Linked DNA regions of Homo sapiens: region 2 is linked to region 1. Evidence: fine-mapped expression QTL. A gene starts in region 1. The other region holds a variant in brackets. All regions are shown on one strand. Distances are from middle to middle.

Region 1 (15,750 bases):
TAGTCCCAGCTATTCGGGAGGCTGAGACAGGAGAATCACTTGAACCTGGGAGGCGGAGCCTGCAGTGAGCCGAGATTGCGCCATTGCACTCCAGCCTGGGTGACAGAGCAAGACTCCGTCTCAAAAAAAAAAAAAAAAAAAAAAAAAAAAAAAAGGCCAGGCACGGTGGCTCACCTGTAATCCCAGAACTGTGGGAGGCCGAAGCGGGCGGATCACGAAGTCAGGAGTTCGACACCAGCCTGACCAACATGCTGAAACCCCGTCTCTACTAAAAATACCAAAAAATTAGCCAGACATGGTGGCGTGTGCCTGTAATCCCAGCTGCTCAGGAGGCTGAGGCAGGAGAATCGCTTGAGCCCGGGAGGCGGAGGTTGCAATGAGCAGAGATCGAGCCACTGCACTCCAGCCTGGGCAACAGAGGGAGACTCCGTCTCAAAAAAAAAAAAAAAAAAACAGTGAAAAAAATCAAAGGTTGAACAAGTTGACCTTTCATAGGCTCTCGGCCCCACCACTGTATAGTTCTAGGCGATGGGCACTATTTGCAGAGGGAAGCTGAGCGGGTTTGAGAAAGTGCTGGTTATACAGGGAGGTGACCAACCAGGGCCTCTTTCTCCAGGGCCAGTAGCCAATCTGCGACACAATCTCAACAACGTGATCGCATCGCTGGGCTGCACCGTGGAGCTGCAGATCAACAACACCCGCGCAGCTTGGCGCATCTCCACAGCCCCCTTACGGGCCATGTTCAAGGACCTGCTGGTCAGGAATCTGCACAGGCAGAGCCTGGGGGGTCCCTCTCCCTGGGGCCAAGTTAACTTGAGCTGGGAGTTGTCACCCTGGATTTACAGTTTCCCAATGGGGATACTACTGGCATTTTTTGCAGAACTATTCCCAAACATTGCAGAACGTGCCCTGGTCCTGGTGTTAAATGCCAGGAGAGCCCCTGAGTCATTAGGACATGCTCTATACACATTTCCTAATACCTGAGTGGTCAGTACTCTGGACAGCTGAACTAGAATATCTAGGAAATTTGGGGGCTTTGGCCTTGAGTAGCTCAGAAGTTTCGAAGACAAGAGTATTCAAGAATTGGGTATTGGAAGGCTGGAGACTGGGGGTTTGGGAGAATTGGAGAGCTGGAGAGTTGGGGACATGGGGGCTGAGGGGTTTGGAAGTTGGGGGCATTCAGATGGCATAATGATCTCAGAGACTAGTGGTGAAGGGTAAGGTCTAAGGACCTGGGGAACCACTGACCAGGAAGGGTCTGGGATGGGAGGACTGAGGAAGAGCTGAGAGTCTGGGAGGTACGCAGAGCCAGGACATGTGGCATCAGACAAGGCAGCTGGTGGGGGGGCTCCCAAGGGCAATGGACAGCCGGGAATTTGAGGTGAGAGGCTGTGTCTCAGGGCCTAGGCTCCCTGTCGGCCTGGGGTGAGAACCCAAAGCTTGGCTACTGGGGGAGGACAGGCCCTCAGGCAGCAGAAGTTCTAAAGCCCCAGCCCTCACCCTTTCCTCCCTCCACCTCCAATCCCAGAGTAGCAAAGAATTGCTGAGAGCAGAGACTCGGAACATCTCCGCCACTTTTGAGGACCTGGATGCCCAGGTGAATAGTGAGACGGGCTACACGCCTGAGGATACCATGGACTCAGGGGAGACAGCCCAGGGCAGGGAGGCCCGCCAAGCCCCAGCCTCCAGACTCCACCTGTCGACACAGAAGATGTATGAGCTGAAGACCAAGCTGCGTTGCTCCTGTGAGGGGTATCCCTGGGGAGTGGAGGGTGGGGTGGGATGTGGGGCCAGCATTGTGGATCAAGATGTGGGAACCTCAGACACCCTTGCTCCTTCCTACAGATGTGGTGAACCAGGCCATACTCAGCTGCCGTCGTTGGTTTGACCGCAAGCATGAACAGTGCATGAAGCACATCTGGGTCCCACTCCTCACCCACCTGCTCTGCCTGCCTATGAAGTTCAAGTTCTTCTGTGGCATTGCCAAGGGTCTGCACAGTTGCAAAGGGGTGGGGAGCATCGGGGTAGGGAGCTGAGTCCTTGGGACCCACTGGTAGGTGACAGGCAGGAAAGCAACAGATGAGGAGGGTTTTGGCCCTGAGGCCACAGCATCCTTAGAGCCCTCCACCTGCTGAATAGCTCTGTGACGCAGGGTGAGTTACAGCAAAGCTCTGAGCTGTGGCTTTTCATCTGAAAGATGCGCATGGGCAGAATAACAGTAGTTCTTGCATTAATTTTTTTTTTTGAGACGGGGTGCTTCACTCTTGTCACCCAGACTGGAGTGCAGTGGCGCAATCTCGGCTCACCGCAACCTCTGCCTCCCGGGTTCAAGCGATTCTCCTGCCTCAGCCTCCTGAGTAGCTGGGATTACAGGTGGCCGCCACCATGCCCAGCTAATTTTTGTATATTTAGTAGAGACGGGGTTTCACCACGTTGACCAAGCTGGTCTTGAACTCTTAACCTCAGGTGATCCACCCACCTCAGCCTCCCAAAGTGCTGGGATTACAGGTGTGAGCCATCGCACCCAGCCACATTAAGGGCTTTTAAGGATTTATGGGGCTAACGTATGTGAAGGCAGTGGCAGAGCTGGCACACAGAGGAGCTGCTCTGTAAACGCTGGCTCTCCTTACTGATGTTTGTTATGGTTGAGGATAGATTGACAAAAATGAGGGAACTCAGGTCTGGTTCCTGGAGGGCAGGATCCAAAGAGAGCAGAGAGGGGAAGACTCAGCATTGGTGTGGTAGCAAGCCATGGGCAGAGAGACAAAAAAGCAGGATGAGGAGGACTACAGGAGGACAGGCAGGCCAGGCCTGCACCTGGAGGACAGGCCCGGGGAGGCCCCTGACCCCGTCCACTGTTCACCAGTGATGGAGGTTTGGTGCCGCAATCGCATCCCAGTGGAAGGCAACTTTGGGCAGACCTACGACTCCCTCAACCAGTCTATTCGTGGCCTGGATGGGGAATTTTCAGCCAATATTGACTTCAAGGTAGAAGGCAAGGGCGAGGGTTGGTGGGGGGTAGATAGGGAGTGGGAGGAGGGCATGAGGGAATAGAGCTAGAGGAAGGACAAGTGAGAGGGCACAGGAAAGAGGTGACCAGGGGTGAGGGAGGGGGACAAGGAGGGGGAATGTCGCTGGTGTTGAGGGGGCCCTCTGTTTCCCATCTCCACCCCCGAACACCTGAGATGGGCAGGGGAGGGGAAAGGTGGTGAGGAGGGGACAGTGCCAAGCCTGTGGTTTGTGCAGACTTGGCCTGGGGTGGGAGCTATCAGCCAGATATGAGATGATGTCAGCTGATGTAGGTGCAGGGGAGCAAGACTGTGTCCAGGAGGGTGGTGAGCAGAAGGAAGTGACAACTCCTAGAGGTCCTGGGAGGGCCCCAGGGACACAAGTGGGGTACTGGGGAACAGATGTCATGAAGAGGTGGGACCCAGGTCTGACGAGGTGGCCGCAGGCTGAGTTTGCTCATGTGCCCTCCACCAGGAAGAGAAGCAGGCTGGGGTGCTGGGGCTCAACACAAGCTGGGAGCGCGTGAGCACCGAGGTGCGGGACTACGTGTACCGCCAGGAGGCCCGGCTGGAGTGGGCCCTGGGGCTGCTGCACGTGCTGCTCTCCTGCACTTTCCTGCTGGTCCTGCATGCGTGAGCCATAGTCCCCACCCCAGCAGCCCCTCCTCTGCCCCGGACTGGAGCCCTGCCCTGAGGGAGGCTGTAAGGATGGAACCCTAGCACCTATCCTCACCTCTGAATCTGAATATTATTTACCTTTGTCTTTGTTTACACAAAGTTAAAGGAAAAGTGGACATTTTGTCAGAAGAACATTACCCATGTTCCCACTGCCTTAAAAGGCCAACCGTCTTCATTCATCCACCTCCTTCCAGCCTTTATCCCAATACTGATTTTTTTTTTTTACGTTTAGCTTTGACTTTTGATTTTTTCTTGCCCTTCATATTCCCCTTGGCTCTGACTTTGTGCCATTTTTATCTTTCCATTTTGCTTTCATTTTCTCCTGCCTGCTGCGTTGGCAGCGACTTTCCCTCCATTTAGAACAAAGTCCTCAACCCCACCCAGCCCAGTGTCCAGCTGGGCTGCCCCGGGCCTTGCTCTGCTCTAGCTCCCCTGCTGGTCTCTGGACCCTCTATTTCCCATCTCCACTCCCAAACACCTGAGATGGGCAGGGCTTGGGTGAGGGCTGCCACAGGGCTGTTGCTCTGTCTGCCCCTATGTGGGGGGCCTAGAGTGACTGCAAGTGAGTGGGTATGTGTGTATCTAGGGCCCCATGGGAAGACAAAGATGAAGGAGCTCTATTCCTGCCCCCAATAAGCTCATGATCGCCAGGCATGGCGGCTCACTCCTGTAATCCCAACATTTTGGGAAGCCGAGGTGGGAGGATGGCTTGAGTTGAGGTGTTTGAGACCAGCCTGGGTAACACAGTGAGACCTCGTCTCTACAAAAAATGAACAAAATCAGCCAGGTGTGGGGCACATGCCTGTAGTCCCAGCTACTTGGGAGGCTGAGGCAGGAGAATCACTGGGAGGTCGAAGCTGCAGTGAGCTGTGATTGTGCCACTGCATTCTGCATTCCAGCCTGGTGTCAGAGTGAGAGCTTGTCTCAAAAAAAAAAAAAAAAAAAAAAAGCTAATGATCTAGTTGGGATCATGAGACACCCACAAGACAGAGATGGTTCAAGGGCCATTCTATGGATTGGCTTTTGAGACGTGTATGGGAGCTGGGAAGGTGCCCCTTGGAAGGGCAATAACTGGGCTCCAAATGGCCGCAGATGCGGAACGGTGGTCAAGGAAAGAAGGGTGTCCCTTGCGTAAGGCTCCTGGTATCCATGGGATGCAGAGGGCAGAGGCTGGCCTGGAGAACTGAAGTGGGCATGACCAGAACAGTCTGGAAAGCCCTGCAGGAAGACCTGGAACTGGCGGTGGTGGCAAGATGGCCTCAGGAAGTCTGGAGGGAGGGCGGGAGGCCAGGCTGGGTTGGAGGTTAGGGAGCCTGGCCCGGGTAGAGCATGGCAGGAAGATGGCTTGAGATGGTGGGGGAAGGGGAAAGGTGCAGCGAGGCTCAGAGCCAGCTTGTGGAGGGAAGGAAGGAGGCACAGAGTCAAAAGCTACTTCCAGGCTTTCAAGCTGGGTGAGGTCATGCACTGAAAGGACAGCTGGCGGGAGGGCAGGCCCTGGCTCAGGAAGCCCAGGCACCACCTCTGTGAGCCTCTCCACAAGAGGGCACTCACAGTATGTCTTTGCACTTACAGTAGTTTTAAAGGCAAAGATGTGGATTTTTACAGGGCCCCAGAAGCAATAGCATTGAAACTAATGTTTCACACTTTACAGAGTTTGTTTAATGTACTTTTACAGTTTTAAACACATTTGCAGTAATTAACATTTTTTCCTTAGCAAACTGAAGCATTATGTAGGGCTTTGGGAAATACATGGGGGATAGCTATATATGCAGGCATGCACCCATGCACACGTGCACCGTGCTCAAGGGTAGCCAGGGAGAGCCAGGGTGTATTGGGGGAGGATGGAGATGGTGGTCTGGGATGAGTTTTGCCCCAGCACACTTCCAGGAGATATGCTGCAGGCAAAGCCAAGAGGCAGGAATTTGTGAGTCACAGTGGATTAGGTGATTCCTGAAACCTCAAGGAGTTTCCCCCTCTCTGTAACTCTGCTCGATATTCATCCTGTAAGATGCATGCCTGTCCCTACCTCAGATGCACACATGCAACTCCCTCCCAGACAGGCTGACCATGCCCTCCTCTGAGCCCCCACCTCATCCCCTACTCACTTCTGCTATGTCTCACCCATCATGTAGGGGGATGTCTTCCTCTACACAATTGGAAGGCAGGGACAGAGTCTTCTCCCTGTTATCACCATCCCCTAGCAGTGCCCAGGACATAGATGGTGCTCAATGAATGCTGGCTGGTTGGTTGAATGACTGTGCCTCAAGGAAGCCCATGTTTGGGGATAGATGAGGAGAACCTGGAAGAGATGGAGACATCCCTGCCCATCCACCCACAGGTCTTTCTCCTACATGGACAGCTATAACCATGACATTCGTTTTGACAACATCTACATCAGTACCTACTTCTGCCAGATCGATGACCGCAGGAAGAAGCTGGTGAGTGGGCACGGCACTGCCCGGGGATGCCTTGCTGCTGTGTGCCCTGTGTGGGTTCATGCTCCAGGAAGGCAGAGAGGAAAGGGCAGAGGGCCCTTGGGCTTCCTAACTGTGTGGACATTTGTTTTCCAGGGCAAACGGACTCTGCTGCCACTCCGCAAAGCTGAGGAGAAAACCGTCATCTTCCCTTGCAAGCCCACCATCCAGGCCTCAGAAATGAGCAATGTGGTGAGGACAGCATGGGGAGCGGACTCCTGGGTGCAAAGACAGGCCTGAAGGTGAGGGTGGAGGGTAAAAGGCACCAGAGAGTGCTCCGTGCCCAGGCAGATGGCACTGCCCAGCTCTGCCCCTCCTGCTCCTTGGCCAGGTGAGGGAGCTCCTGGAGACACTGCCCATTCTGCTGCTGCTGGTGGTGCTGTGTGGCTTGGACTGGGCTCTCTACTCCATCTTCGACACCATCCGCCACCACTCCTTCCTGCAGTACTCCTTCCGCAGTAAGCCCATCCCCCAGACACATTCCAGGCCCAAGAGACACCCTCTGGAGAACTCCAATGCCTGCACAGCCACCCCACCCTAGTTCTTCCAACTGTGCCTCGTCCTTCTGCCTCTTTTTTTTTTTTTTTTTTGAGACAAAGAGTCTCGCTCTGTCACCCAGGCTGGAGGAGTGCATTGGCACAATCTCAGCTCACTGCAACCTCCACCTCCCAGGTTCAAGCAGTTCTCCTGCCTCAGCCTCTTGAGTAGCTGAGATTACAGGTGTGAGCCACCACGGCCAGCTAATTTTTCTATTTTTAGTAGAGACAGAGTTTCACCATGTTGGTCAGGCTGGTCTCGAACTCCTGACCTCAAGTGATCCACCTGCCTCGGCCACCCAAAGTGCTGGGATTACAGGTGTGTGCCACTGTGCCAGCCATCCTTCTGCCTGTTCTTTTCCCCTTTCTGTGATTCAGCCCCTCCCTGTCCTCCTCAAGGTCAAATGACAGCCCTGCAACCTGACAGCTCTCACAGCAGGGGAGGGGGGCTCTGTACCCCTTTACACTTACAACTGGGAGCAGGGAGGGGTTAGGATTCAGGAAGGGACAGAAAGACTCAGGCAGCTGAGAAGCATTTCTGTGTCTTGACCCCTCCCTGACATCCACCCCCTTAACACATTCCTGATTTCTCCACCTGCCCTGACTTCCCTACCTGTCCTCCTGGCCGCAGGCAGTCATAAACTGGAGGTGAAGGTCGGGGGAGACTCCATGCTAGCCCGGCTTCTTCGAAAAACCATTGGGGCCCTGAACACCTCCTCAGAGACAGTGATGGAATCAAACAACATGCGTGAGTGATGCTGAAAGTTTGGATCAGAGGAATCGAGGGCGGTGGGGCAAGGGTCAAAAGACTCCAAGGTAAAGAGTTAGGGGCCTGGGCCTTGGGTGTGGAGAGATGGGGGTTGGAGCGCTTGAGCTGGGGAAATCGGAGCAGGGAACACATCTGGGCAGGCTTGAAAAAGGGGAGCATGACCAGCTTCAGTCAGAGGAGTCTGGAGGCCAGGGTCTTGTGGCTAGGGGGCCCCAGCCCTCCAGAGCAGCACTGTCCAACAGGACATTCAGTCAAGATAGAAATCTGCAAGATCTGTGCCACATTGGGCCCAGCGGCTACAGTACTGACAGGGCAGTTCTGCAGTGAGGGGCAGGCAGGAGGAGAGCAGGGGAATCAGAGGACTGCACCTCCCACTGGGATGGGAAGTCCAACCCAGGGCTGCCCTGCCCCTTGGCTGGTCCTGACCAGACCCCTGGCCTGCCCCTCCCCTAGCCTGCCTGCCCCAGCCTGTGGGCCTGGATGCCAGGGCCTACTGGAGAGCTGCAGTACCGATTGGCCTGTTAGTGTGTCTCTGCCTGTTACAGGCTTTTGGCTACCGACTCCGGAGGGTCATCGCAGCCTTCTACTTCCCCAAGGTTTGCCCCTCCCCAGACCTCTCCACCCCTACACACCTGCACACACACACACACACCACCCAGCTCCCTACCAACTCCATATTTGGGGGATGCCTTTCTCTATCATTGACCCCCTTCCTGCCCCCAGCGAGAGAAGAAGCGGATCCTGTTCCTCTACAATGACCTATTGAAGAAAAGAGCAGCCTTCACCAAACTCAGGAGGGCCGCTATCCTGAGGCGGGAGCGACAGCAGAAGGCTCCGGTAAGTCCAGGCGTAAGTGCTGCTGCCAGCTCCTGGCTGGGTCTAAGTACAGCAGGCAAGGGGCAGCTCCCTTCAGTCCACCCAGCACCCACCAATGGTCGCAGGCCTACTCGAGCCTGGTAAGTTCTTTTTATTTTTTGAGATGGAATCTCACTGTGTCGCCCAGGCTGGAGTGCAGTGGCACGATCTCGGCTCACTGCAACCTCTGCCTCCCAGGTTCAAGCGATTATCCTATCTCAGCCCCCCACTCCACAAGTAGCCAGGATTACAGGCACACGCCATCACGCCCAGCTATTTTTTTGTATTTTTAGTAGAGACAGGGTTTCACCATGTTGGCCAGGCTGGTCTCAAACTCCTGACCTCAGGTGATCTGCCCACCTCAGCCTTCCAAAGTCCTAGGATTACAGGCGTGAGCCACCAAGCCCAGCCAAGCCCGGTGTAATCTGATGCAACACATGCTGAGGGCCCCAGCCATCCAGCTCCTAAGGTCAGGGCTGTGCCCGTTTCTGAATCCCAGGATTCAGCCCAGCCTAAGACACTCAGTGGACCATTAGGAAGCAGGCAGAAAAGGAGAATGAGATTTAATACAGTCTGCTCATAGAAAAGCAAGAGGGCCGCACAGAAACAGGAGGCCCAAGGCAAAACCAAAGTTTCTACCAGAGGGCTGCAGACCAGAAGCTCAGTGCAGTTCAAGGGACAGGAGGAGGCAGGTGGGCTGGGAGTCAGGAAGGCCTCATGCAGGGGCACATGGTAAGGCACATGGAATCTGAGGAAGCAGACTCCAGTCCATACTCCCTCATTAAGTTGTGTCACCTTGGCCAAGGTCTTCACTGAGCCTCAGTTTCTCCCTCTGAAGAATGGCAAGACTGGAGAGATCTGTAAGGCCTGCTCACTGGAGATCAGCCTAGAGTGGTGGTCAGGTGTGGGACTCCGGTGCCAGAGGGCCTAAGTGTGTATCCCGGCTCCTTCCCTCATTACTATGACAACGGTGTGACCTTGAGCACATGACTTAACTGCTGTGCCTGGGCTTTTGCCTTCCATAAAATGGGGTTAACTACTCCATCTGGTTGTTTTAAGGATTAAATGAGTTGTACTTACATGGTGCTGGCATGCAGCAAGTTCCATATGCATGCATGTTATCATTGGGTGACCCTGGGCAGTGATCACATCTCCAAGCATCAGTTTTCTCACCTGAAAAAAAGGAGATGATAATAACACTATCTGCCTTACATGACAATTGAATTGAATTTTTTTTTTTTTTTGAGACTAAGTCTCACTCTGTCGCCCAGGCTGGAGTGCAGTGGCGTGATCTTGGCTCACTGCAACCTCCACCTCCCCAGTTCAAGCGATTCTCGTGCCTCAGCTTCCCGAGTAGCTGGGATTACAGGCACACACTACCACGCCCGGCTAATTTAGAATTGAAATAATTTATGTACAGTATCTTAGTACAGGACCTGACATTATAAACAATGAGTGGCAGCCATTCTTATTTAATCAGTCCTAACAAAGTTCATAAAAGTGAGACTGTGTTTGCTTAGCTTTTTCCCTAGGGCCTGGATACCCCCAGCCCCCATGACACACAATAGGGGCCAAATGAATGTGTTGTGAAAAAATGAAAAACAAAAAACAAAAAAGAACATGCTGGGATTCCTTGACAGGGTCGTGAAGCAAACTGAATGTGAATGCACAGATGGAAATGTGCCAGACAGTCATTCCAAGCAGAATGTGCAAAGACTCAGTCCACAGGGAATGCGAAGTGCCAGGGCTAGTCTCAGGAGAAACTGGCTCAGAAGAGACAGCTCTCAGGGAGGGCTAAAGTAGGAAAGAGGCTAGAAAGGGACCAGGTGAGGGAAGGCTCTGAAGGCCAAGCCCAAGAGTTCTGCCTGTCTGGCAGGCAGCAGGGCCTCTGGAGTTTCTTGGGCAAAGAGTGGCTGCTTCCTGGGTAAGGTGGCCTGTGGAAAATCCCTGACAACTGTGTAGAGACATGTCGTGAGGGATGGCAGGGAGCATAGTGAACTAGGTTTGTGGTTTGGAATCAGGGCCCCTGGGGTCCAGCCAAGTTGGATTGTTTACTATCTGTGTGACTTTGAGAGTCACTTCACCTTTCTCAACTGTAAAGTGGGGATAGCAACAGTGATAGTCGATCTGGCCTGCTCACTTCTCAGCCTCACTGTGAGAACCAAATAAGATGATTTACAGGAAAGTGCAAATGAGAGTTGTGGCTGATATCCGCTTGGAGAGAGCCTGGAGGGTGCATCCTCCCATTCTCCATCACAGAGTTGGGGAGGGAGGCACCCTCGCCCTCCAGGGGTTTCCTTTGTCCAACCCAGCCTCCTCCAACACGCGGGAATTGTCAGGCCTGGCGACTTCAGACAGGAAACGCTGTCCAGTTCCCCTTCTTTCCCGCCTCGCTCCCGGGCTGGCGCTAACGCCCACCTCCCAACAGCGCCACCCGCTGGCGGATATCCTGCACCGCGGCTGCCCGCTCCTGCGCCGCTGGCTGTGCCGGCGCTGCGTGGTGTGCCAGGCACCCGAGACGCCCGAGTCCTACGTGTGCCGGACGCTGGACTGCGAGGCCGTGTACTGCTGGTCGTGCTGGGACGACATGCGGCAGCGGTGCCCGGTCTGCACGCCCCGCGAAGAGCTCTCTTCCTCCGCCTTTAGTGACAGCAACGACGACACTGCCTACGCGGGGTGAAGAGGCGTCCTGCTCGCTCTTCCGCACCGTCCTTCCCGGTTAATAAAATGCCCTGTACGCTTCACGTGGGTCGGGGACTGGGGTGAGCCGCGCACTGCCTCGCCTGCAGTCGGGAAAGCCTGCCCGCCCGACCTCTCCGAGCCAGGCCGCGCACAGGAGGCAGGGAGGCCGCGAAGCTACTAGGGAGGGGTCCGGACCTGGCGCCGGGTGAAGGCGCGCCGCCCAAGCCGGTCGGACCGGGCACCGGCTCCCACTCCGCACAGTTGCGGGGAAGCGGTAGCGCTGAGCAGCGCGGGCGTAGTGGGCGGTGTCCCCGCTCCCGAGGCACCCGGCGCGCAGCGGGGCGGGCTTTGCCGGGGGCGGAGCTTGGCTTGGGGCCGGGTGGGAGGGGGCGGGCCGGGGCGGGGCCTGGTGGCCGCGCGGCGCTGCTGGGTTCTCCGAGGCGACCTGGCCGCCGGCCGCTCCTCCGCGCGCTGTTCCGCACTTGCTGCCCTCGCCCGGCCCGGAGCGCCGCTGCCATGCGGCTGGCGCTGCTCTGGGCCCTGGGGCTCCTGGGCGCGGGCAGCCCTCTGCCTTCCTGGCCGCTCCCAAATATAGGTGAGTCCTCCGCCTGGAGTGGGTCGGGGGGCGGACTGGGAGGGAGGTGCAGGAAAGTCGGAAGGCATTAGGGTAATGGGGCCGGACGGAGACCCTGGGAGAGCCCAGCCAGAGCGCGGCCCGCCCTGGTCCGCTGTCCTGGGCCTAGGGCCCGGTGACTTGGCGATGGGGTGAAAAGAGAAGGAGGGGGGATGCCGGCGCCCCCTGCCTCCTGCCTGGTCATCCTCTGCGCGGTCCCTGCGGACACTTTCAGGCTCAGGTACCAGGTACCGAGGGGCCTGTCCAGCGCCACTTCAAGATCGTGATGAGAGGGTCGCTGCTCCCCAGGACTGGCATCTTCGCTGCTCTGGGGCCTAGCTAACCGTTCGACCCGGTGCCAGGGCGCTGAGCGGGCATGGCTTGTAGGGTTTAGTGAAGAGGATTCTCTCTAGCCTCTATTCCAGGCCTGGGGCCGCCAGGCACTCCTCACCCTGGTGCTGTTGCCACCAGTGCCTGGCCGAGCGGGAGGGGCCCGAGATGAGCCAGGAGAAGGGAGAATTGGCCAGGAAAGAGGCTGGGACACCAACTCCTCCTTGGAACTTTCACTTCCCGCTGCTGTCTTGGGCCGGGACCGAGAGGGCAGGCGCGGGTGGAGTGTCCGGAGGAGAGAGGGCCATTGTGTGTTGGGGGGGTGGGGGGTGCTCGAGGAGGAAGCAGAGGCTGTAGGCAGCGGGTGTGCCTGACTGGGCATGAGGGTGTTTAGGGAGGTGGGGGTGTTTGCACTGCTCACCCAGAAATGGGCGTTCCTGGCATCTCCGATGTGAGCGAAGGGGAGGGTGAGCGGGCACCCGGCCACAAGGCTTAGCTCAGTCTCGAGAGGGGGCGTTCCTGAAGTGGGGGGAGAGTGATTGGGAGGGAGTGGGAACCGGGGAGGGTCCTGTGAGAACCTGGGATTGGCCGGAAGGGGACAAGGAGGGCCACAGGCTGCGCAAGCCGAAAGTCTTTCTTGGGGACTTGTGAATGGGTTGGTGGGTGGAAAGCCATAAATTAGAGAGACACCCTCTCCTTCCAGTATTCTTCTTTAAGTCTCAGCATGCAATGTGGAAGCCCCTCAGGTACCTAAGGGTCTTGATGGGCTGGGAGCTGGTGGATCTGAGGGCACCTGTCACCCCCAGCCCTGCTGTCGATTCCCTCAGTACTGTCTTGGGGTGTCCTGGGACCTGCAGGTGGCACTGAGGAGCAGCAGGCAGAGTCAGAGAAGGCCCCGAGGGAGCCCTTGGAGCCCCAGGTCCTTCAGGACGATCTCCCAATTAGCCTCAAAAAGGTGCTTCAGGTGAGCTCTCACTCCCCTCTAATAAATAAACGAATCCACACACGCCCCGGTATAGCCAGGTGTCTCAAAGCCAAAGCTTGGCTGAGGAGCTGGTGGGTAGAGCTCACTGTAGTGGGTCTATCCCAGGCCCAGCTGCCTCTCCCACCACACCCCAGCACCTGGCTTCACTTATCTCCCTCTCCCTCTGCACACACGTGTATCTGTCTGCCTCAGCCCCACCCAACCCATCCATCTCCACTGGGGAAATTGTGAAGCCAAACTTGCTTTCTTCATCTCATGTTGTCGGTTTTCTCAGTGGGGGGATTTGGAAAGAGTCAGGACCTTACCAAACCCCCCCCCCCCCACCCCATTCTAAAGCTGAGTCAGAGGAAGGGCTGGGGCTTGTGCTGGGTCCTACACGGTGCTTCCTCTCTGGGCAGGAAGCCGAGAAGGGGTGGCTCAGATACCTTCCTTGACCTCCGCACACAACCCCCCAGAACAATGCTCCAGGCCAGGCAGGGTTTCCTGGCCCCTCCCCTGGGATCCCCCCACCAGTGATCTAATTGCTGGTGCTCTTCTGTGGGCCTGAGGTTTTCTGGTTAGAGAGGCTGGGAGTTGTGGACAGGTCTAGGGAGGTGACCTGCCCTCTGGTGCCCACAGACCAGTCTGCCTGAGCCCCTGAGGATCAAGTTGGAGCTGGACGGTGACAGTCATATCCTGGAGCTGCTACAGAATAGGTAATAGTGATGGTGGCAATAACAGTGACCACATGGCCAACAACTTGTATAGCATTTATTATGTGCCAGGTACTAAGTGCTTGTGCTCATTTAATCCTCATAACAGCCCTATAAGGGATATACTATCATGTATTATTGTCCTCACTTTATACATGAGGAAGTCAAGGCACAGAGAGATTAAATAACTTGCCCCAGGTCACACAGCTAGTATGTGGTGAAAACCAGATTGGAATTCAAATAAACTAACAGAGTCAGTGGCCCAACCAGTATACTTTGCTGCCCCGGGGTCAGGAGTGGAAAAGTTGGCTGCGGGGGTTGCCTGGTCCCCAGCCCCACAACCACCTTCAAGCCTCTGCTTGTCAATGCACGACCTGGGAAGTGGCTTTAGCACTGCCTTCTTTTTCTTCACTCCACAGGGAGTTGGTCCCAGGCCGCCCAACCCTGGTGTGGTACCAGCCCGATGGCACTCGGGTGGTCAGTGAGGGACACACTTTGGTGAGTCAGGCCCTCTTGTGCCATTTTTGGCTTAGGGGAAAGAGGGAGGGGGTGGCTGGAAGGTGAGAGGACACTGCATATTTTTACCGTCAAGCTAGGCTCCTCAGTTCCAGTCCTGGTGTGCTCTCTGAGACAGCACTAATGTTGTTCCCATGCTGCAGGAGAACTGCTGCTACCAGGGAAGAGTGCGGGGATATGCAGGCTCCTGGGTGTCCATCTGCACCTGCTCTGGGCTCAGGTATACTGGGCGGATTTAATGACAGTAGAGAAAGTAAGGAGACCCAGGCATGGAGCTGAAATGTTCTCTGACTTTCTTTTTTCTTAGAGGCTTGGTGGTCCTGACCCCAGAGAGAAGCTATACCCTGGAGCAGGGGCCTGGGGACCTTCAGGGTCCTCCCATTATTTCGCGAATCCAAGATCTCCACCTGCCAGGCCACACCTGTGCCCTGAGCTGGCGGGAATCTGTACACACTCAGAAGCCACCAGAGCACCCCCTGGGACAGCGCCACATTCGCCGGGTGAGGATGAATGGCAGGGGGGTGGGCTTTGGTTGTCTTGAGGGCTGATCCCCAGACACTTAGAGCTATGTGTGCACAGTAACAACAGCTCCTGCGAATGGAGCACTTTCCACATGCTGGGCACTTTGTGAACATTAGCTCGTGTACTCCTCCCATACCTAGGAGGTAGGTGCTATCAATAGCTCTATTTTAAAATGACGAAACCTTACAAAAAGTATCTGGGCATGGTGGCGTGCACCCGTAGTTCCAGCCACTCAGGAGGCCGAAGTGGAAGAATCGCTTGAGCCCAGGAGGCAGAGGTTTCAGTGGGCCGAGATCGAGCCACTACACACCAGCCTGGGTGAAAGAGTGAGACCTCGTCTCAAAAAATAAAATAAAAATAAAATAAAATAAAATCTAGCTGAGACAGATTAGGTGGTTTGCCCGAGGCCCTACAACTAATAAATGGCCTATCCATTTATTAGTTGTATTTGGCTCTTCATCTGTCTTATGATCCCATTTGCAGAGAGCTCTCACTTGGTTATAGATAATACATAGTTACCAATGATGAAGCAATATAAACCCAATTTCCTAATTTGTAAAATGAAGATAATAAAACTACTTGCTGCATAGAGTTGCTGGGAAGATTAAATAAGTCCATATAGATGTAAAGTGCTTAAAACTATGCCAGACCTATGGTAAGTGACAAGAGTTGTTATTGGGATTTTTAAAAATTATTATTATTATTATTATTATTTGAGACAGAGTCTCGCTCTGTCTCCCAGGCTGGAGTGCAGTGGCATGATCTCGGCTCACTGCAAGCTCCGCCTCCCAGGTTCACGCCATTCTCTTGCCTCAGCCTCCCGAGTAGCTGGGACTACAGGCGCCCGCCACTACACCCGGCTAATGTTTTGTATTTTTTAGTACAGACAGGGTTTCACCGTGTTATCCAGGATGGTCTCGATCTCCTGACCTCATGATCCACCCGCCTTGTCCTCCCAAAGTGCTGAGATTACAGGCGTGAGCCACCGCACCCAGCTAAATTACTGTTTTTTAAAAATTTGAAAAAAACCACTGAGTTTGGAGCCAGAAAAGCAGGGGTCTACTCCAACCTTCATTATCTACTTCCTGGT
Region 2 (11,225 bases), 250 kb before region 1:
CTGGAGGCTGGCCCAGGCCCTGAAGGAAACAGGGATGGATGGGCCTGTCGGTCACCCTTTCTGACTGTCTGGGATATGAATGACAGGAGCAGCAGCAGCTGCATTTTCTAGTTAGTTCTGAGGTCAGGCAAACAGGCCCCTGACACTGCCTCTCAGATGGGTTGTCCCACCTTCACACACCTCTGTAGCAGGCACAGGTATACAGGCTTGCTCTGAGGCGCCTTCTGCCGAGTGCTGGCCATGTTGGAAGCACCATACAAAGTGGTTGAGTGGCCAAATGTTTGAAAAATGCTTCTCAGAGATTCATCAGGCTCATTAGCATATTAAAGCTTCTGAGACTTCTAAAGAAAAGAAAACAAGTCGGCTTTGAAATGCAGTTTCTCAAACTTATTTGACCTTGACTCTTGTTTTGAAGTAACAGCTATTAATATTTCAAGGAACACTGGGAAATGCAGGGTGTGAGGCATTCAGTGTAACAGACAATGGAGGGTTCATTCCTTCAAGCATCCATGGTTCATTTTCATGAAGATTACCATAGTCTTCCTGAGAGGCACCAAATACTCCCCTGCCTTCCTGAACTGACTCCACGGAGCACAGCCCACGCCGCCAAACCCGTCAGCATCCACTCGCATCACCCCACAGCCTCCTGTGAGCCAGCCACCTTCACGTGCTTTTTAGTTATTTTATTTAACAAATACTTAACACAGCGTTTACTAGGTTCCGGGTGCTAGTCTCAATGACTTACACATACTAGCTTCTTTACTCCTCATAGCAGCCCTTTTGTGGTGGGCCTTATTATTGAAAGATGAGGAAACTGAGGCATGAAGAGATTAAGTGACATGCCCAAGGTCACACAGCTGGTAAGTGGTTTACTCAGACCCAGGCAGTCTGGCCCCAGAGTCCACGTACACTCATTTCTTATTGCTGCTGTAACACATTACTTAAAACAACACAGATTTATTATATTACAGCTCCGGAGGCCAGATGTGTGGAATCAGTTTCACTAGACTAACGTGGAGGTTGTCCGCAGGGCTGGCTCCTTCCCGAAGATCAGGCGGGGGAATCCGTTTCCTTGCTTTTCCAGCTTCCAGAGAGGGCCTGCCTTCCCTGCCTCGTAGCCTCTTCTCCCACCACTCCAGCCTCCTGCTTCACCATCACTCGTCCTGCTTCCTCTTCGGTAGCTTCCTCTGCCTCCCTTTTCACAAAGACACTTGTGATTACGTTTAGATCCCACCTGGATAACCCAGGATACTCTCCTCCATCTCAAGATCCTTCATTTAACCACATCCTGCAAAGTCCCTTTTGCCAGGATATCCAGGGATTAGGAGCTGGATATTTTGGCAGGGTGGTGGTCGGTGGGGCAGGGGGGGGCATTATGATTCAGCCTACCACATTATGCTTTTGACCATTGTGCTAAATCTAGTTTAATCTTCCTAACAATCCTAGGAAGACGTTGTCATTATTTCTATTTTACAGATTTGAAGACTAGGGCTCCAAGACGTCAGCTGAACTGCCAAGTGTCACCCAGGTAGTAAATGGCACAGCTGGGACAGGAACCAAGAAGTGAATGACTTGCTCCTTCACACCTGCCCTGCCATCGGAGAGGCGGCACTCAGGACAGGCAGGGCCTTGGGGGATTCCGAAGGAGGTGCTGCTTTTGTTACTCTCTAGACTGAGCCCTCCTGACATCCTAAGCCCACTGAAAACCTGATGCGAGCTATGAATTTGCTTTCCCTAGAACAAGAAGCATTTACAGAAACACACCATGTATTGCAGCTAGTTTCTGGGAGTTCACGGGCCCCAGGTTAGGAATGCTTGCTTTTTTTGTTTGTTTGTTTGTTTGTTTGTTTGTTTTGAGAGACAGAGTCTCGCTCTGTCGCCCAGGCTGGAGGAGTGCAGTGGTGCGATCTTGGCTCACTGCAACCTCTGCCTCCTGGGTTCAAGCAATTCTCCTGCCTCAGCTTCCCAAGTGGCTGGGACTACAGGCATGCACTACAATGCCCAGCTAATTTTTTGCATTTTTTAGTAGAGAAATGAGGATTCGCTACATATATGGCAACATATATGTTGGCCAGGCTGGTCTCGAACTCCTGATCTCAGGTGATCTGCCCGCCTCGGCCTCCCAAAGTGCTGGGATTACAGGCGTGAGCCACCATGCCCAGCCAAGAACACTTGCTTTTAAAAGCAGAGTATCAAAGGGATGTTTGCACACCCATGTTCATTGCAGCATTACAGATACTCCTTAACTTATGATGGGTCACGTCCTGATGAGCCCGTTGTAAATTGAAAATATTGTAAGTAGAAAATGCATTTAATACACCTAACCTACCGAATGTCACAGCTTAACCTAGCCTGCCTTGTGTGCTCAGAACACTTACATTAGCCTACATTTGAGCAAAATCATCTATCACAAAGCCTATTTTATAATAAAGCATTGAATATCTCATGTGATTTACTGAACACTGTAAACGGTAGAGTACTGTATCAGTTGCTGACCCTCGTGATCACAGGGCTGACCGGGGCTCTCTGCCGCTGCCCAACATCACAAGAGAATATCATGCCGCATACCACTAGCCCAGGAAAAGATCAAAATTCAAAATTCAAAGTACAGTTCCTGCTGAATGTGTGTTGCTTTCACACCATCATAAAGTCGACAAATCTTAAGTCAAATCATCGTTAAATCTGGGACTATCTCTCTCTGTAGGATTCGGTACTATCTGCAGTTTTAGACATCCACCAGGGATCTTGGAACACATCCCCCATGTATATACTGTACAGAATTTCAGGTTTGCAGGAGACAAGAGTTCTGGAGATTGTTTGCACATCAATATGAGTAAACATAACATCACTGAACTATATACTTAAAAATGGTTAGGATGAGGCCAAGTGTGGTGGCTCACGCCTGTAATCCCAGCACTTTGGGAGGCCGAGGTGAGTGGATCACCTGAGGTCAGGAGTTCGAGACCAGCCTGGCCAACATGGTAAAACCCCATCTCTACTAAAAATACAAAAATTAGCTGGGCATGGTGGTGCATGTCTGTAATCCCAGCTACTAGGGAGGCTGAGGCAGGAGAATCACTTGAACCTGGGAGGCAGAGGTTGCAGCGAGTCAAGATCGCACCACCGCACTCCAGCCTGGGTGACAGAGTGAGACTCCATCTCAAAAAAAAAAAAAAAAAACAAGTTAGGATGGTATTTTATATTACGTGTATCATACCACTTTTTTTTTTTTTTTCTCAAAAAGACTGCTCTAAACTGAGAGCTCTTGCAGAGCAAAGACCACATCAGGTACATTCTTGCGGCTGGTGCTGGGGAGGAGCTCAACAGATGTCTGCCCGCGACAGCTCAGCAGGTGGGATGGGTGATCGGCTGCCTCCCGCTGGCTGTGGCTAACACTTCTAGAAGCCCTGCACACCGGAGAGTAAGCAACCAGCCCAAGCCTGGCTAAAACCAAAAACAATAAAAAGCCTCGAGAACTGAGAATGTGGAGGAGGAAGACAGGACAAAAATAAATCCAGTCACTGCTGTGGTCAAGAAGAGGTGGCTTTCACCCATTCCTCAAAGGAACCTCGAAAGGGAACGAAAGGCCCCGATGTTAATTTTAGAAATAGCTTGAAGCCCTGTCCAACTTGAGAGTGACTCTGTGCCTCTTCCACAGCTTAAAGTACCTGGACTTTTTGACAGTTGTGCTCCTCTGCTGCCAAATGAATGGGGGTTGTAATCCACTTGAGGATCTTTTAAACTTCACTGCTGTTTGTATGAATTTGGAAGGAAAAACCAAACCTCCTCTGAGAGCTGACTCACGTCCCTTTGGGCATTGTGCCAGGCCCTCAGAAATCACCTCATCTGCCAACCCATCTATAATACCCTGTCTGTAAAAGCATCCTTCTGCTTCCACTGGCCAGGAAGATCGCAAAGGAAACCATGTAATTGCAAGAAAAGCCAAGTCAGAGAGGCAGGTGACACGTGTTTTATGACCAATGAGGGGCAAAGCCATAGAAAGTTCAGAACTGAGAGTGGGTGGGAGCATAAATCCTGTTGCCATTGTGGTAAAAATGGGTGGCACTCACTGTGGGAACCTTGAAAGGGAACAGAGTGCCACGATGCTGCTTTGCAGAGGGTCAGGTGGTCACACAGCATCCTGGGGTGGTTTATTCCCTCCGGGTCTCCCCCGTCTGCCATGTTCCAACAACCATCCCAGATCCTCCTCCCTCTAATTGGGATCATATTAAATAGCCTTTCCACCAGTGACAGAAGGAGGTGGGCTCTTAGTGGAGCCCACTCTGTAAATATAGAGTAACAACAGGAATCAGAATGTTCCACTGGAAACAGGTGGGACTTGTCCTCCCCATACAGACTATAGAAGATGTTTACAGGACTTTCTGCAACCATCCTCATCAAGTATAATCCCAGAAAAGTAACAGCAAGCTGATGGGTTTATTCAGGTAATATCCAGGAGACATATTTCTCTTTAAAAGGAAAAGGAATTTGCATGTTTTGTTATGGCCATCCCTTATTCCAGTTTAACTGGTCCCTAAGAGGCTCTAACTACAGCAAGAGGGATTTTGGTTAGAGAGATTGTCAAACCTTGAAGAAGGGTAGAGACGGAAAGAGAGAGAATTTGAGGGAAGATTCCTCCCAGGGAAATGTTTTCAAAATGAAATCTGGACCTATTCATGTGGGAGAGAATGCCCACCCCAGAAGCAGGGGATTGACCTATATGGGCTCCGAAGTTCTTTTCATGCTGTTTCCATTGAGCTGCCTTCCCTTGCCTGTGATGCAGGCAGAAGTTTGATTTTTTTTCTATCCCTGAAGGTGTTGGCAAAACAGAAAGTTTCTCTCCTTCAGCCAGGTCTCAGGCAACTTCTAGTGTGTATTTCCCCACCCTTTTCATTTCCCAGCCAGAGAAAGGGGAGTTCCTTTAGTTGTGGTCCTCGGTTCTGTACCAAGAGCAGGAAGCTCCTAACCCCAAACCATCGCACTCAGGAATATTCTCACCACAAACACCTAGAAGCCAATCTTTCCACTCCAAATGGAGATGGACAGGTCAATCAGAAAGAACGGGCTATTGAAAAGCTGTAATAAATCATGTGCCAAGTGAGGTGTCAGACATGCAAACCAGGGAATACAAAGTCAGAGAGTTGTAAATGAAGTAGTGGGTTGAAGAGCTAGCAGTGGCCTGGTTCTCTCTGCCCACAGCAAAGGCCCAGAGCCAGCTTGTGCACCACCCCTCCTCTTGGCCAGGAAGGTACCCAAATGTCTGTTCCTTGGTAAGAGGCTGACCCTGAAAAGTTTACA[C/A]CTGGAGTTTCATCCCTGTATCTTAAAGCAAATGGGGTGATGGGGAGGGATGTCGGGGGCATGGGAGGGTGGCAGACCCCAATGCAGCCTAGAGACAAAGCCACCAGGCTTGGGAATTAACAGACTCCATTTAAAAGTTATAAACCACCTAAAAGGATTACCATTAATGACAGTGATTAATGCAAACTGCAAAGTAGCAATAAATCATTAATTATACTTTCAATTTTTAAAAACTCCAACAAATCAATATTAAATCTTACAGAACTTATTCACTATGCTGGGGACTGTTACCCAACTGTTGTGGGGGGAAAGGCAGAAATAGAACACAAAAAGCCTGCAGTGAAATACCTCTAAGAATGGCTGGAGTAGTTAACTTAGCTTGACTTGACCTCGTTAACGTAGTTGACTAAGCTGACTTAGTCAAGGAATACTAAAGACCTGCAGTTGGAAACCCGACCTGCCCCAGATCTCCAAAGTCAGTGTGGAGGCGGATTCATTCCAGGGTTTGCACATAATCTGGGTGGGAGAGCATCCGTCATTCCATCACACTGGATCCTTTCCCCCATGCATGCCTTTGTTCCTCACTGATGCATCCAGCCCTCGAATGTGCACAGCACTGTCCCAGGGCTAGAGGTTCTGCCTGGTGGTTTCCTGTTGTGCGTAGAATGTAGACAAATCCTCTTCCCAGGACCACCAAGGCTGTTGTGCTCATCTCCTTCTTGACACACAATCTTTCCGAATGCTGTTCCCTCTGCCTAGAATGTTCTTCCCTTCACTCTATGTCAAGTTAATCCTATTCATCCTCTGACTGGATCAATCTAGGCTCCTTGGAGTACTTACCACAGTTGTAATTTTACAGTCATTTGTGCAATTATCTGACTAATGTCTGGCCTGTTCTGAGGCTATAAGCTGCTTGAGGACAGAGACCATGTCTGTTTCTATGTCCATGTTTTCCCCAGAGCTTGCCCTTAAACATAGATGCTTAATAAACACTTGATGAATGAAAAAATGAGGCACACCTCAAAGGAGCTCAAGGTCCTGGTGGGAGAGACTCTCTTTGGCTCTCCATGTAAATGACTCCATCAGCCCTCTGCTGCAAGATCAGTCTTGCTTGTGAAGAACTGAGTCCTCTGATGGGATCAGGGACCCTCTGAGAGGAGAAAAAACTTGCATTATAGAGGGTAGACTATTGTTATGCTCTTTATTATCTTTGACTATTGCCTTTCTGGTCTCCCTTTGAATTAGTAGATTATTCAGCTGTCTTGAGGCCCACAAGGAACAGGCATTTTGGTCCATGGATCAACCATGGACCAAAGGTGGACCTCTGTGGAGGGCTCATTCACAGAGGTGCAGGAGCAGCAGTATGCCTGAGGCTAGGCATTGTGCATGGAGGTGGCACTGGAGGGAGGAAGGACTTTGAGCCCATCTAGAAAGAATGCTGGGATCGATTGGTTATGTCTGTTATGGATGCAGCATGGGAACCCAGTAGCGAGCCTGTCACACATTGACCAGGCATACTCTGAGGAGGCAGGGAGCTCGTTTTCACTGACTTCCTAGAGAGCTCTTTTTCATCCAATCCCTGAGGATGTCTGCTCTGTGTAATAAGGGGGGCTATTTCTTCACAGTTAGTTGTCATGGCTGGATTTCCCATAGCTGGGTGGTTCCATAAGTAGCCTATACTTAGTTACTGAGACAGGCATAAATTTAGGTCTTTCACATTTACACGGAAAATTCTCTGAAACGAGTCCTGTGAGAGAATGACATCCTAACGTGCCCAGGAAAGCAGAGGGACCACCATGCCCGTCGCCCAGCCCCTGTGGTCTGTGACACTTGTGCAGCCGCTGGCTAACCAAAAACTGAAGGTCTGGGATTAGATTGCCTTTGCGTAATCTGGGAAGCCAAGTCCCTTTTCTGACTGGCTTCTGAAGAAAGAATCTGGTCACCCATTGGTAGGCTGACTGCGTGAAAGAACGCACTTTGCAAACATAAGAGCACACACAGGGGCCACCCCACAAAGCCACCTCTGCAGTGGTAGTGTCGAGTCCCCCACCTACTGATCACAACGTGGTAAGGCTTCTCTGAAGGTTCCAGGACCATCAATTCATGTCTGGAAGTACGGTGGAAGCTGCACATCATTCACTGCTGTGCCACACATTCCCTGAGCCACCCTTCTGTCAGATGCTGTATAAGGCATGGGGACTCAAAGAGGCACGGGCCTGGACCACCCTCATATAACTCAGTAAATGAGCAGTGATGTAAACAGAGGAATATATTGCATATAAGAGGTGCAGCAAGAGACGTCTGTATGCATGAGGCTCCGTGGGGGCACTGAAAGTTGGTGGGGGTGGGTCAGGGAGGACAGCTCAGGCTTAAGAGATGAGAACAGCACTTGGAAGGAGGAGCAGTACATGCAGAGGCCCAGAGACGTGGACCTGTGGGGCACAGGGGACTCCAGGGTAATGGGCACAGGGGACTCCAGGTTGACTGGCACAGTGTTCCAGGAGGAAATGGCACAGATGTGGCCGCAGAGCAGGGCAGGGCCAATTCTGGAGGGCTCTATCTGCCCCCCTGGGGAGTCTAGACTGTATTCTAAGGACAAGGAGGAGCAGCCAAAAGTTTTCAGACAAGGACAAGGTCCAGTGTGTGTGTCTGTTGGATTCCTCACAGCTGTGACGATGAGGTGAGGTGGTGCAGAAAGGGTGAGGAGGCAGGGTACAAGTTAGAGGCTTCCCTAACAGTCCACATAAGACCTGGTGTTGGGGGATGAGTGGAGGTGGCGAATACTGCAATCGAAAGGTAATTTATGCCCACTGGAAAATACCTTGGAAGATATACACTCAGCAGTGACGGAGAAAGAGCTCATAAATTCTTATTGCCAGGTCCACATTTCTCCAAGAGTCTGGCCTCCCAGGACCATTTTCCTGGTCTCCACTCCAGATCTGAATTCTTGCCCCTCCCCTGGTCTCCATAGCTCTTTGTTATTAGTCTGTCTTCTTTGAATTACAGTCCACAGAATATCATCTCCCACCCGTCTGGGAAGAGGTTGAGGGCAGAGCTGGCATTCCACGTCTCTGTATTTCCCATTGGTGCCAAACATACACACGCACGTACAGACATGCTTTCATGCACACAGAGATGTCTAGATATCATTTTTTATTGGGTAAAAAAAAAATTTAGGTGCAGGGACTGCCCAAGTTACAATTCATCTGGCTGCATAGGCTCACGGTGAACTAGTTACAAATTTGTGGTTTGGGAGACAAGTCATGATTCAACCGATTCAACCGATTGTGTCCGTAAAGCAGCTGGGTTCAGAAGTGTCTGAAGCTGGGGGCCCCTGCCGCTGTCAGCATGCCAGCTCACCGGTCGATGTGCACAGCGAACGCTGGCCAAGCTGTGCAAGGCACTCCGGTGGCATTGGTCAATAATGGGGCAGGCAATGAGGCAGCGCCCAGAGGATAAGACACATCTTTTTTTGATTGTGTGGCTTGTTTTCTTGAGGAATGAAAGGGTTTTCCAAATGAAGATAGTAGAATGGAAACAAATGCAAAACCAGAAATGAAAAAGGCGTTTGGGATCTAGGACTTAAATGTATCTAATCCCGGTGTGCTTGTGGACATGGGGGTGATCTGCTTGGCTTCATCAGCAGCCTGCGACAACTAGTGGCCTACAAAAAGCTAGCCCTGCGACAGTGTCATCTCACTCCCAATGAAGCCAGTCTCCGAAGGAGAGGAGAGGGTAAGACCATCTAGAATATCCACCTCGTCCCTCCCCCTAGAACAGGAGACAGAGACAGCAGTGAGGCTGGGCTCACAGGTCTGGCCTTGGGGTCCCTTAATGCTCATACTAATGGTTACCATATTACCTGACATTCTGTAGTAGGTTGTCCTAATTTCTGTAGATAATCAAGGATGGTGGAAAAAACCTGGACTTCGGAGTCAGGCAGAGTAGGGTTCGAATTCTGACTCCTCCACTGACTGGCTGTGTGATTTTGGGCAAGTTAATTAACCTCTCTGAGCCTCACTTTCCTGAGGAGATAATACTGTAGTACATAGCGAAAGGAAGTATTAATAGAAATAAATCTCACAATACCAAAGTAACTTTCAGAGGTCGCCCTTGAAGCTACAACCCTAATTCATTTCTTCCTCCATGACCCCCCATCACTGCCACATTCCGTTCTTTGTCTGCATCTGAATTTACACGGACTTATTTGATTGATTCCTTGTTATTGCCTGTCCCTGTGCCTTCCCACTAGCCTGGAAGCTCTATGAGGGCAGGGATCATATCTGTCCTGTTCATTAGTGTGTCCCCAGTGCCAGGAACAGTGTAAGCACTCTTTCAATTTTTGGTAAATGAATTGAATGAGAAACACAAAGCTTGGCATATAGCAGATGCTGGAGGAATTCTGATCAGTGTGACCCCAGAGACCTAGAAGGACCAGAGGCGTGGACACAGGGGTGTGGCTCTGCCTGAGCAAGTCTCTGTAACTTGCTGTGTGGACTTTTAGGTGTCTTCTCTCTCTAGGCCTCAGTTTCCTCATCTGTTCAATAAGAAGGATGGTCTGATGATGATCACTGAGGCCTTCTCCAGCACTCTCTGGCTCTAATTGTCTTGGATCCTCCACATGGGCTCTGGACTAAATAGAACAGGAAATCCAGCTCCATCACTGGAGCCTCCATTTGTAACTTTCAGCTCCATGACTGCCATACTAAATCATCCCGAGAGGCCAGGGTACAATTCCTGGGACAGGGTAGATATTGCAAATTGCCAGCAGCAACTGGTAGCCCCACTTCTCCACTCCCCCAACCCTTATGGCCCAGCCACCCTCTTGGACTCACCAAGACACATCTGTTAGCCTCAGACCTGGTTTGAACAAACAGGAAGAAAGGAAGGACAGAAAATAGGTGGGCATTGACCTGTACCAGGCCCTATGCCAGGTGCTCTGACACACAGTGCTTGCCTGGTCCTCTCCATAGCTCAGGAACATCATTATCCCCATTCACAGATGAGGAGAAGGTATATTAGTTATACCCATGAAGGCAGCAAATAGCGAGGCAGGACATTCGCCAAGCCTTCTAACTCAAAGTCTCACACATTGAACAATTTGGTGGAGTTTACACCCTAGGCCTCTTATCTCTGACTATTAATCAGGCTATTCCCAAGTGTAATTTATGGCAAGAATACACTACTAATTCAGGAGCAGCCTCTATGGGAGACATTGTTTACACTAATGTAGTAATAAGAGCAAAGAAAAGAGCTGACATTTCTTAAGGGTAATGGGGACCACAGTGACAAACACATCACAAGCATTCTCTGGTTTTGTCCCCACAAAAACTCAATGAGTAGGCACTGACACTGTACCTACTTTGCAGATTAGGGGCACGAGACTTACAGAGTGTGTGAAGTTACACAACTAAGAAGTGGTGGAGCCAAAATTCAAATCCTAGTCTCTAGTTCCAGGCCTTCCATCCTACCACCTCACTATACTGTGGGCAGACTGGTGAGACCATTGCTATGAACTAACAGTCAATTACACAACACTGACACTTATTGCATTTTTTTTTTTTTTTTTTTGAGACAGAGTCCACTCTGTCACCCAGGCTGGAGTGCAGTGGCACAATCTTGGCTCACTGCAACCTCTGCCTCTTGGGTTCAAGCCATTCTCCTGACTCAGCCTCCCAAGTAGCTGGGTTTATAGGTATGCACAACCATGCCTGGCTAATTTTTGTATTTTTAGTAGAGATGGGGTTTCACCATGTTGGCCAGGCTGGTCTCGAACTCCTGACTTCAAGTGATCTGCCTGCCTCAGTCTCCCAAAGTGCTGGGATTACAGGCATGTGCCACCATGCCTGGCCTAAAGCACACTTTAAATAATGATTTATACTAACACAGTTCTTATTATATGATCAAACTGAAAGGAAAAGAGGTCA

What was found.
Region 2: its variant is fine-mapped to the expression of ADAM15 in whole blood (INTERVAL, PIP 0.98).

The regions. Positions count from the first base shown.
Region 1 is chr1:155,039,869-155,055,618 of GRCh38, forward strand. It overlaps ADAM15 (ADAM metallopeptidase domain 15), which reads left to right and starts at 11,448. Exons shown (of 23, transcript NM_207197.3): 1 at 11,448-11,597; 2 at 12,803-12,909; 3 at 13,549-13,625; 4 at 14,042-14,120; 5 at 14,282-14,358; 6 at 14,446-14,638. The coding sequence starts at 11,519. DCST1 (DC-STAMP domain containing 1) reads left to right here. Exons shown (of 17, transcript NM_152494.4): 6 at 617-756; 7 at 1,529-1,745; 8 at 1,846-1,989; 9 at 2,867-2,988; 10 at 3,484-3,641; 11 at 6,025-6,124; 12 at 6,257-6,352; 13 at 6,492-6,618; 14 at 7,328-7,444; 15 at 7,919-8,061; 16 at 8,189-8,302; 17 at 10,749-11,062. The coding sequence ends at 11,000. DCST1-AS1 (DCST1 antisense RNA 1) reads right to left here. Exons shown (of 4, transcript NR_040773.1): 2 at 9,401-9,493; 3 at 6,092-6,287; 4 at 5,323-5,985. ADAM15-EFNA4 (ADAM15-EFNA4 readthrough) reads left to right here and starts at 11,448. Exons shown (of 26, transcript NR_176418.1): 1 at 11,448-11,597; 2 at 12,803-12,909; 3 at 13,549-13,625; 4 at 14,042-14,120; 5 at 14,282-14,358; 6 at 14,446-14,638. RefSeq lists an enhancer at 10,623-10,682 and a silencer at 11,153-11,612.
Region 2 is chr1:154,788,067-154,799,291 of GRCh38, forward strand. All of the region lies in intron 2 of KCNN3 (potassium calcium-activated channel subfamily N member 3), which reads right to left. Among named protein-coding and RNA genes, the nearest start is that of KCNN3, 77 kb to the right of the region's middle. RefSeq lists an enhancer at 3,399-3,708. The variant C/A (reference allele first, on the strand shown) is at 5,299.